3 linked regions of the Homo sapiens genome follow. The protein of the gene in region 1 purifies or fractionates together with the protein of each later gene. This does not show direct contact. Each region holds a gene or a part of one and is shown on either strand. Other genes may lie near its edges. The genes, in order: MTMR8, MADD and TAB1.

What was found.
Region 2: the proteins of MTMR8 (region 1) and MADD purify together in Homo sapiens (affinity purification with mass spectrometry; 2 studies listed by BioGRID and IntAct, with this or other methods). This does not show direct contact.
Region 3: the proteins of MTMR8 (region 1) and TAB1 purify together in Homo sapiens (affinity purification with mass spectrometry, with the first as the bait; 2 studies listed by BioGRID). This does not show direct contact.

The regions. Positions count from the first base shown.
Region 1 is NC_000023.11:64,393,367-64,397,140, reverse strand, and holds the start of MTMR8 (phosphatidylinositol-3,5-bisphosphate 3-phosphatase MTMR8), read left to right. Parts: upstream 1-1,688; 5' UTR 1,689-1,777; coding exon 1,778-1,801; intron 1,802-3,774. UniProt on the Homo sapiens protein: Lipid phosphatase that specifically dephosphorylates the D-3 position of phosphatidylinositol 3-phosphate and phosphatidylinositol 3,5-bisphosphate, generating phosphatidylinositol and phosphatidylinositol 5-phosphate.
Region 2 is NC_000011.10:47,273,054-47,276,827, forward strand, and holds part of MADD (MAP kinase-activating death domain protein), read left to right. Parts: intron 1-773; 5' UTR 774-861; coding exon 862-923; intron 924-1,509; coding exon 1,510-2,106; intron 2,107-2,845; coding exon 2,846-3,149; intron 3,150-3,678; coding exon 3,679-3,774. UniProt on the Homo sapiens protein: Guanyl-nucleotide exchange factor that regulates small GTPases of the Rab family. Converts GDP-bound inactive form of RAB27A and RAB27B to the GTP-bound active forms.
Region 3 is NC_000022.11:39,402,780-39,406,475, forward strand, and holds part of TAB1 (TGF-beta-activated kinase 1 and MAP3K7-binding protein 1), read left to right. Parts: intron 1-3,696. UniProt on the Homo sapiens protein: Key adapter protein that plays an essential role in JNK and NF-kappa-B activation and proinflammatory cytokines production in response to stimulation with TLRs and cytokines.

The sequences.
Region 1 (3,774 bases):
AAGTTTAATTGGCTCACCGTTCTGCAGGCTGTACAGGAAGCATAGTGGCTTCTGGTTCTGGGGAGGCCTCAGGAAACTTCCAGTCATGGTGGAAGGCAAATGGGGAGTGAGGCACTTCACATGGCCAGAGCAGGAGGAAAATGGGCAGGGAAAGGTGCCACACACTTCTAAGCCATCAGATCTCGTGAGAACTCACTCACTATGGCAACGACAATACCAAGGAGGCTAGTGTTAAACCATTCAGAAGAAACCACCCCCATGATCCAATCACCTCCTACCAGGCCCCACTTCCAACGTAAGGGATTACAATTAAACATGAGATTTGGTGGGGACACAGATCCAAGCCATATCCAGGAGTAAGGGTTTAACTTGTGGAAGAGATCAAGATAACCAAAAGAAAGAAAATAGAAGAGGAATGAGGATAGAAGCCAGGAAAATGGCTTAAAAAAAAGAGAAAGTTGCTGGGAAGGAGTCAGAGAAGGAACAGTTGGGGATGCAGGCAGTGAGTTTGTTTATAATAAAGGTCAAGGGAAGAAAGAATGTCAAAAAGGAATATGAATCAATAGTTTTAAATGCTGTAAAACAAATAGAAAACGAGCACTGAGAAGAGCTGTTGGAATCAGCAGCTGGAATTTAGGATGATGTGAAAGAGCCAATTGAGTGGAGTGGTAGGGAGGAGTGAGTTTGTTATGGAGAAGTGAAGGTGATGATAAGTAGACTATTCTTTTGAGATATTTGGCAGTGAAAGGGCTGAACATGATGGAACGATGGTACAAGGGAGAATAGGGTCATGGATCGAGGGAAGGGCCTTCAGGCTAGGGAAGAAGGCAGAATATGATAAACGAGTAATTTTGCTAGCAAATGTTATAAGAACTCAAAGAAGAACAAAATTATTTTGTAGGGGCAGTGAGATTGCAAACCATAACACTGCAATAGTAGAGCTAGAAATTACCCTGAGATAGTGGCCAATACCCTCATTGTAACCTTGGTCAACTTAAGACCCAGAGAGGTGGCATGATTTCCCCAAGGTCACATAGCAAGTTAGTGGCAGACCTGAGAGGAGTAGAATCCAGATTTCCCAACTCTCAGATTGTTCTTTTTTCCACCACAAATCTGACTTGGAGCACACCACTGAGGGTCTGCACCTATTTACCCCTCATCTGATAGCTGGTCCAGTGGGCCCTTTCTTGGTCCTCTTCCCATATCTACGATGGCAAAAGTGATGAGGATACTGTAGTATTCCAGATTTTAACTAGGTTGATGGCAGCAGACACATAAAGGAGAGATAGAGAGGAGGATATACCTTTCCATATTTCAAAAAATATTCTCTGGTGACTTGCCCAAGGTCTCACAGCTAGGAAGCTCTTCAGAAACCCAATTGCCAGCATGGGGCAGCCTGTGTTACTGCTGCAGGATGCTATCATTGTAATATTAGAGTAAAGGAGTGATATCTGTGTTCAGAGCCCTTATAGCATCAAGAAGGGTGAGAAGGGTGGCAGTACTCGAATCTGGGACTTAAAGACTCGGCCAAACGTTGAACCTGAACCAGAATAATCAATTTCCCGAAGAAAAGGGCACTTGCCAGGAAGCAAGATGGCGGGAACGGCTACGGTCAAAGTGTCGCGATAGGAGCTTTCGCCGAGGATCAGGTGACGAGAGTTTGAGCCAGGACCGGGAGGGCGGGGGTAGAAACCCGGGTTGAGGCAGGAGGCGGCTAGACCGGTGGCGGCGGCATCTGGAGTAGCACTGAGATCTTCCGGTGGCGGGAACTGCAGTCATGGATCATATTACGGTACCCAAGGTAAGGAGAAGAGTTAAGCGAGGCTGACAGCCGCGAGCTTCCTCTTGGTGCTCACCTGGGAGCCCAGACACACCTCCTCAGCCTTCTCAGCCTTCTTTGACGCGTCTTTCCTGTGGGGGGTCCCGGGTTCTCTTTCTGGGTCCACACCCCCTTTCAACCAAACACCTCTTCTTAGGATCTGCTTGCGGGCGTCAGCGGCCGGGAAAGAGGTGGTCTGCACCACTGTCCCCTTACGCGACGCCGCCCCCGCTCCTGGTGCACGCCTGTTCTGGCCCTCTGACTCCAGCTCCTCCCTAGCCTTGACCTCACACTCACCCTTATCTCAGCTTTTTATACTAGCTGCACTTGTAACCGCCATTCGCGAATACCCCACATTGCTCTGCCTCCTGCGGAGTTACTTCCTTTATCGAGCGTTTCTTCACCATCCTCTTGGCTCCTCCAGCCACTAACCTTCCCCAGGGATTGCCCAGAACCCCACTCTCGCTCCAGCTCCACGGCATGCCTGTGAGGGTTTGTGGGGGCCACAGCATCTCTTCAGCCAAAGCTGGGCAATGGAAAAGGAAGAGGAGTGGGGCAGAGTGGATCTGGCTCTGCTCAGCCGGTAGGAGAAACCCAAGAGGTTTATCTAGCCAGTTGTCACCTGTTTTTAGCCAGTCCCGAGTTAGAGTTACTTCTGCTACTTTTTCCTCTCATCTTTCCAGATCCTACTCCCTCCCTTCCCAACGCCAGCCCCTTTCTGTTTCAAATCCACTTCCCTCCTTTCTCCTGTCTGGGGCTGGGGAACAGTGAAAAATTCACAACTAGTCTGTGGTTATTTTTTCCTGTTGATCATAACACACGTGGTCCAGGCTAATTGAAGTCCTGGTAAAAAATCCAGCGTGTTTTTAATGGAAAGAGCATGGATTTTGAAGCCAGAAGACTTGAATTAAAGTGCTGCCCACTGCACCCCCACCAACTACTTAGCTAATGACTTTGGACAAATTATTTAACCTCTCTGAGCCTTAGCTTTCCTCACCTACTGATAGGGTTTTTCTCTGTGTCCCCACCCAAATCTCCTCTTGTAGCTTCCGTAATTCTCACGTGTTGTGGGAGGGACCCGGTGGGAGACGGTTGAATCATGGGGGCAGGGCTTTCCTGTGCTGTTCTTGTGATAGTGAATGGGTCTCATGAGATCTGATGGTTTTAAAAACGGGAGTTTCTTTGCACAGGCTCTCTCTTTGCCTGCTGCCATGCATGTAAGATGTGACTTGCTCCTCCTTGCCTTCCTCCATAATTGTGAGGTCTCCCCAGCCATGTGGAACTGTTAAGTCCAATAAACCTCTTTGGTAAATTGCCCAGTCTTGGGTATGTCATCAGCAGCGTGAAAACAGACTGATACACCTACCAAATGAGGATAATGAAATTTGCCCGGCTCACTTCACAAGATGGTTGTGGGATTAAATAAGAGGATGTGTGTGAAAGAGTTTTTGTAACTAGTAATGTTTTGCCCACTTTTTAGCATAAAACTTTGATGCTGCCTGATGGGCAAAGCACAAACTCCAACCTTTAACCTTTTTTTCTGACTCCCTCCTCTTCAGGGCCTTTCTCTGTGGAGGATAACCACATCCCGTGTAAAAGCCAGCCAGCCTTGCCTTTTTCTGTGTCCCTTTGTTTCCGGATCATGTCATTTGTACGGGTCCTCTGACATGGTATAAGAAGGTGGTACCATTAAAGGAAAGGAACTTCTGTTGTCCAGACTCCCTCTTCTCCCAACCCACCTAAGCTTGGGCCACGTTACTTGTCTAGTTCAAAATCAGCTCACTCGAATACTCCTTTTTTCTCTCTTTTGACAACTGGGGAAGATGGGGAGGCAGAACTGCTCCTGTCCTTGAGTGTTAAAATATTAAAATTCCCCTGTTAGGGATTGAAGCTATAAACTGGGCTGGCTCTATGGAAATTGGAAGGGAGAAGAAACCATTAACGGGCCCATATGA
Region 2 (3,774 bases), on another chromosome or scaffold:
AGACAGTCTATGTGGTAGTTTTACATCAAGCTGAATGTAGATTGTTGAAACAGAATAATTAAGTTTCCATCTAGACCTAGAAGTGCAGGTTAGTGCTAGCTAGTTGAGGAGTCTGGTTTGATCCTGATCCACCCTGGAGGGATCCTGAGAGTGACTTCAATTTTTGTTACAATGACTGAGTCCAGATTAGATGGCCTAGGTCTGTTTTTCAGAAACAGAGCCCCAGGCGTTAAGCTGGAAATTAAGTCATTGGTAGGGATAGGTAGGTGAACCATTATTTATCTACATTTTTTTTTTTTTCTTGAGACGGAGTCTCACTCTGTCACCCAGGCTCGAGTGCAGTGGTGCGATCTCAGCTCACCACAGCCTCCACCTCCTGGGTTCAAGCGATTCTCATGCCTCAGACTCCCGAGTAGCTGGGATTACAGATGTGTGCCACCACACCCGGCTAATTTTTTTGTATTTTTAGTAGAGATGGGGTTTTGCCATGTTGGCCAGCTGGTCTCAAACTCCTGACCTCAGGTGATCCGCCTCGGCCTCCCAGAGTTCTGGGATTACAGGCGTGAGCCACCATGCCTGGCCTATCTATTTTTTAACATTCGATTCTGTGAGCTCATGAGCCTAGACACGAGGCTAGGCAAGCGTCAAGTTCTCCTATCATTAGTATGAAAGTGGAAGACCTTCTGACCTCTGCCTCTGGCCGGGAAGAAGTTGAGAGGGATGAGTCCCTTAGGCACAGCAGTGGATCTTATCAGTACTTTTTTTCCTATTAGACTTCGATTTTCAGAATTCCTCCTGGGAATGCTGACTCCTTGCTTGGTGCCCTGATGCTTCTCTGAGATAAACTGATGAATTGGAACCATGGTGCAAAAGAAGAAGTTCTGTCCTCGGTTACTTGACTATCTAGTGATCGTAGGGGCCAGGTAACCAAGAAGAGATTGACTTTTGTCTTAATATCTGGGATAGCCATAAAATCTGCAGTTGTTCCCTTCTCCGATTTCCATGTTGCTTTGCATAGCTCATCTTCTCCTGTTATTTTACCCTGATGGGAGCATCGAAGCCAGTAGGGAAAAAACAAAATCAGGTGGATTGAAAGCAAAACCCTGCTCTTAACTAACATCTTCTTGATGTCGAGCAAATATACTCTTTATACCTCAGTTTTCTTATTTTGTAAAAAGAAAAAGTACATTATAAGCTACTCCTCTATGTATACTTTTTTGGTAATTTATTAGTTAATTCACTTTAAAAGATGTTAATCATCTTAAGGTGCCAGTGATAATTTTATTGTCAAAATCTCCCCTTCGTTTCAGAATAGATGCCTTCATGACAGTGTAGACTTCACTTAGGTTACCAGCTCCATGCGGCAGGCAGCACCCATATTTTCCAAGGTGTTACAGTCAGGTTACTTTATCCAAAATAGCATCTTGAGCTTTATTTGTTGACTGTGGTTAAAATTTGATAGCCCATTCCATCCCTTCAGGCTGCTGAATTTGTCTTTATGTTCTTCAGGCACCCGAGCAGTGATAGCGTGGCCCAGACTCCTGAATTGCTACGGCGATACCCCTTGGAGGATCACACTGAGTTTCCCCTGCCCCCAGATGTAGTGTTCTTCTGCCAGCCCGAGGGCTGCCTGAGCGTGCGGCAGCGGCGCATGAGCCTTCGGGATGATACCTCTTTTGTCTTCACCCTCACTGACAAGGACACTGGAGTCACGCGATATGGCATCTGTGTTAACTTCTACCGCTCCTTCCAAAAGCGAATCTCTAAGGAGAAGGGGGAAGGTGGGGCAGGGTCCCGTGGGAAGGAAGGAACCCATGCCACCTGTGCCTCAGAAGAGGGTGGCACTGAGAGCTCAGAGAGTGGCTCATCCCTGCAGCCTCTCAGTGCTGACTCTACCCCTGATGTGAACCAGTCTCCTCGGGGCAAACGCCGGGCCAAGGCGGGGAGCCGCTCCCGCAACAGTACTCTCACGTCCCTGTGCGTGCTCAGCCACTACCCTTTCTTCTCCACCTTCCGAGAGTGTTTGTATACTCTCAAGCGCCTGGTGGACTGCTGTAGTGAGCGCCTTCTGGGCAAGAAACTGGGCATCCCTCGAGGCGTACAAAGGTACAGTTTGCTGCTGATGCCTAATGGGGGAAGCATTTAGAGATTCCATGTAATTGGTCTTTGAGGGGCATAGGAAATTTCCTCTACAGCTCAAGGTCCTTCAGACCTATTAAGCATATTTAGAGTATTTAGAGTTAATCTTTTTTCTTTTGGAGACAGTCTCGCTCTGTTGCCCAGGCTGGAGTACAGTGGTGCGATCTCGGCTCACTGCAACCCCTGCCTCCTGGGTTCAAGTGATCCTTCTGCCTCAGCCTCCCGAGTAGCTGGGATTACAGGTGCACGCCACCATGACCAGCTAATTTTGGTATTTTTGTAGAGACAAGGTTTCGCCATGTTGGCCAGGCTGGTCTCAAACTCCTCACCTCAGGTGGTCCACCCACGTTGGCCTCCCAAAGTGCTGGGATTATAGGCGTGAGCATCATCCCCAGCCAAGAGTTAATCTTTACTAAGCAAAAGACTGCTGCAGAGTTAGACCTCTTTCCAAAATTGTGTTTGGAGTAATGCTGGAATTTGGTGTTTTAACTGTGGTTAGGACAGTAAGTCTTACCCAGTATATATCTTTACATTTGCTTTTGCCATTGTATATACTTTCCGGTCCTATCTGAGCTCAGAGACTGGGCTTTCTTAATGATGCTCCGTTTCCCATTGTCATCATTAGAGCCTCTGTGGTGATACTGAGTTGCAGTAGGGTATCAGCTTCTGATGCTAATGTGTCTGATTCCTGCTGTCTGCTTCTCAGGGACACCATGTGGCGGATCTTTACTGGATCGCTGCTGGTAGAGGAGAAGTCAAGTGCCCTTCTGCATGACCTTCGAGAGATTGAGGCCTGGATCTATCGATTGCTGCGCTCCCCAGTACCCGTCTCTGGGCAGAAGCGAGTAGACATCGAGGTCCTACCCCAAGAGCTCCAGCCAGCTCTGACCTTTGCTCTTCCAGACCCATCTCGATTCACCCTAGTGGATTTCCCACTGCACCTTCCCTTGGAACTTCTAGGTGTGGACGCCTGTCTCCAGGTGCTAACCTGCATTCTGTTAGAGCACAAGGTGAGAGGCAAGCTTCCTAGACCTTTCTAGGGGAGAAACTCTTAAATATGCCAGTGGCCAGACCACGAGCTCTTAGAGGACAGGGACTACATATTTTTCACCTTTTTGTCTTCAGGAGGTAACATGATGCCTGGTAAACAGCAGGTGTTCCGTAGATGTGGGTTGAATTAAGATACTGGTATCATGTGGGATGTATTTAGAGGGTTTACCATTCATTAGGGCTTATCCTTAATTGTACTGACCTAATTCTTTGGAAATATCAGTAGTTCTGTTTCAGTGAGTGGTCCTGGGATGGGCAGTACAAGAACTAGGAAGGTAAGGGAGTGATTTGCATATCTCAGGTGACTGAGGATCACCATTGTGCCTGGATTGGGAGGTGGCAGGCATGGTGGGGCAGGGGGCAGTGGGAGAGACAAAGCTGGAGCTGTAGGCTCGATGAAGTGGAAACCAAGTTGTAATGTTGGAAGCTGTTTTCTTGTAAACCATATTTTATGTTTTGGAGTGATTCTTACTGGATGGCTCATGACAGGTGGTGCTACAGTCCCGAGACTACAATGCACTCTCCATGTCTGTGATGGCATTCGTGGCAATGATCTACCCACTGGAGTATATGTTTCCTGTCATC
Region 3 (3,696 bases), on another chromosome or scaffold:
GGCCTCAAGCAATCCGCCTGCCTGGGCCTCCCAAAGTGCTAGGATTACAGGTGTGAGCCACTGTGCCCGGCCACAAAGAGGTTCTAAGGAGAGCTTGATGTGTTCAAAAGGACCCAGACCTTTCAGCCGGATAAAACAGTGTTAGTCTCATACTGGCTTTGGGCAAATCACTTTATGTCCCTGAGCCTTAGTTTCTCCAAACCAAGAGGACTCTGGGGAGTATTGTTGGTGTTAAAGGAACTGACACATTCCACTACTAGCCTGGCTTGGTTGCCCGCTAACCAGAAACTTCTACCTTCAGTGCTGCCGTGAGTGAATGCTGTTCATTCCCTTAAATGTCCCTGAGCACTCACTATGTGCTAGGCACCCTGCAGGTGCAGGAGACACCGCCTTTGTGGAGCTGATGGTCTAGTAAAGGGGACAGACAGTGAGCACCGAACAGATACAGATCATCTGTGATTTTGTAATATCCAAACTACAGCATCAGGTGGTGCTATGAGGAACAGTCTAGATTCACACACAGAATGTTGGGGGTGCCATTTTGGACAGGGTGGTAAGGGAAGACTTCTCCACATTTGATGAGATGAAAACGGGGAAATGGGGGCAGCATTCCTGCCCAAGGGAGCAGGAGATGCAAAGGCTGCTGTTTCAGGAGCCTCAGGGGTGCTGGTGCAGCTGGGTGGAGTGCCTTGGGGGAGCTTGGGAGTAGCTGAGGTCTGAGGGAGCCGGGGGCCATGCTGGGCTTCACAGGTCCTGATGTGGCCTCTGGATTCCATTCTTCATGTGATGTGAAGCTTTCATGGGGAGCAGATTGAGTAGGGACCTGATGTGATGTGACTTTTGATTGGAGAAAAATCCCTCTTTTTTTTTTTTTTTTGAGACGGAGTCTCGCTCTGTTGCCCAGGCTGGAGTGCAGTGGCGCAATCTCAGCTCACTGCAAGCTCCGCCTCCCAGGTTCACGCCATTCTCCTGCCTCAGCCTCCCAAGTAGCTGGGACTACAGGCACCCACCACCACACCCAGCTAACTTTTTGTATTTTTTTTTTTAGTAGAGACGGGGTTTCACCGTGTTAGCCAGGATGGTCTCGATCTCCTGACCTCGTGATCTGCCAGCCTCGGCCTCCCAAAGTGCTGGGATTACAGGCGTGAGCCACCGTGCCCGGCCGAAAAATCCCTCTTTTGAGTTTGAGTGGTGAGAGTGGAAGCCTGGGACCTCCTAAGAGACTCCTAGAGTCATCCAGGTGCGAGAAGGTGTCTTGGCCATGGGGATGGCAGAAGAATGGTGGGAAGTATCAGATTCCAGTTGTGTTTTGGAGGAAGAGCTCATGTGATTTGCTGATGGATTGAATGTGAGGTGTGTGACAGAGGAAGAAGAGTCAAAAAGGACTCTTAAGGTTTTGGTTTAAACAACAGTGGTGCCATTTACGGGGTGAGGGAGCCCTGGAAGAGGGGCACCCTGGGGCAGGGGGAATCAAGAGTTTGATTTTGCCTGTACTGTTACTTAATTATAAAAAAGAAAATCAGGCTAGGCATGGTGGCTCATGCCTGGAATCCCAGCCCTTTGGGAGGCTGAGGCAGGAGGATCACTTGAGGCCAGGAGTTCCAGATCAGCTCGGGCAACATAGTGAGATTCAGTCTTTAAAAAAATTAGTGAGGCATGGTGGTATGTGCCTGTAGTACTTAGGAGACTTAATGGGGTGATTGCCTGAGCCCAGAAGTTTGAGGTTGTAGTGAGGCTATGATCCCCTCACTGCACTCCAGGCTGGGTGACACAGCAAGACCTGTTTAAAAAAAAAAAAAGAAAGTAAGCTTAAAATCAATTTTTTAAACTTCGACATGTCCTGAGCAATTATATCTGAGATCATAGGTGCTGCTATCTGTGTAATTTATCTAAAGGATGTTAAAATAAATACATAGCCACTAAAATAAAAAGGTCCATGGGGGTACCACCTATACCCATTGCATACACCCAGCTGCTGCCCTAGCACATTGGAAGTGCCAACAATGATTATTAGCCCCTTTAAGAATGAATGAGGAGCTCTTTAGGATGACGACATGGAGAACCTTCAATGAAAACTCCGGTGGGAGAAGTGGGGGCCAGGAGTGGAGCTGGTCTCAGAGAAGTGGGTCATCCGGAAGGTTGGAGGTGGTGGGGGCATTGGGGCCTTGGAAGCTTTTTGGAGAGAAAGGTCTGCTGCTCCCCTGCTCCGAGCCCTCTTCCTGGGGTTGTGAGTCTCCCTTTCTGAGCTTCCTTTTTGCTTCTAAGGAATGTGGGTGCTTTTACCACAAAAACACTTGGCCTTTTCATAGCATAATTTGGTATTCAAGCTGTGGCCTGAGCTTGGAACCATTCTTTGTCCATTTCTGCTGCCCAGGACTTTGAGATGAGTCTGTGTGGGTACTTTGTGAACTATTATGTGACATGGACACATATATACATGAGGAGTGAATGCTTACATCATGCACAGGGTGTTTGTAAAGGCCTTGTTGGGTTAAATACTGTTGGATCACTGTAGAAGCTTTTCATACCGAAACATTAATTTTGGAAACTCCTTCACAAAATCAAATCAAAATTAGGTCTTTTGAAACAGGCTTCTTAACGTATTCTTGTGAAATTTCTCATGAGCAGTTCATTTCTCAGACATGGAAGAGTTAAGTCCTGCGTTCGCTGTTGTGTGTGTTGCAGTGGCTCCGCGATGAGGCTGTGCTGAGTGAGAGACGCCCCCTTCTCAGCTTCTCGCAGACTCTTGCTCCCTGCGCTCCAGCGCCGCTCACGGCTGGTGCTGGCAGGCCTGGCATTTGGGGGCGTGGGAGAAAGTATGCATCAGTGTGTGCAGGGGTGGAGGGGTGGGTGGTTTGTGTGAATAGAAAGTACATGACCTTTCTGAAAATTGTTCAGAAATGTGGAGGAAGGAAGCGAGAGACTTGGCAGTCCTGTAGGCTTTAATGGAATCAGCAATGGACGCTCGGTATGGCTAATCCTCGATGGAGATGGAAAGGGACGGGAGAACACGATCCAAGCCTACTCAGCTGCAGCAGCGTGAGTCCGCTGGGGAACACGGAGAAGACCAGATACTCTCACTCCCACTTGGTAGAACCTCCTGAGGTTCTCCGGCCACTGTAGTGAACCAGTGTCTGGCGAGCGCCCGAATTACGTGAGAAACTGCCCATGTGTCATTGGATCTAAGACACCAATGTTTTAAGGACACGTCAGTGTTTTGTCTATTGCTCAGAAAGAGAACTCACAGCTAATTAACTTGTAACATACCAACTCCAGAGACGTTAACATGTGGAAAATGTAGGTCTTCAAATCAGTGAAATAAGGTAATCTAATTAACAATACCAGGCTATAGCACAATGGTTGCCACAGGGCCACTTTGGGAGGCCAAGGCGTGTGGATCACAAGGTCAGGAGTTCAAGACCAGCCTGGCCAAGATGGTGAAACCACGTCTCTACTAAAAATACAAAAAATTAGCCGGGCATGGTGGCACGCACCTGTAATCCCAGCTACTCCAGAGGCTGAGGCAGAGAATTGCTTAAACCTGGAGGGGCAGAGCTTGCAGTGAGCCAAGATCGCGCCACTGCACTCCAGCCTGGGCGACAGAGTGAGACTGTCACCAAAAAAAAAAAAAAAAAAAAAGGAATCATTTGAGTGAAAGATAGTTTCTTGAAGATGGTCAGTGGATGATTGAGGTTT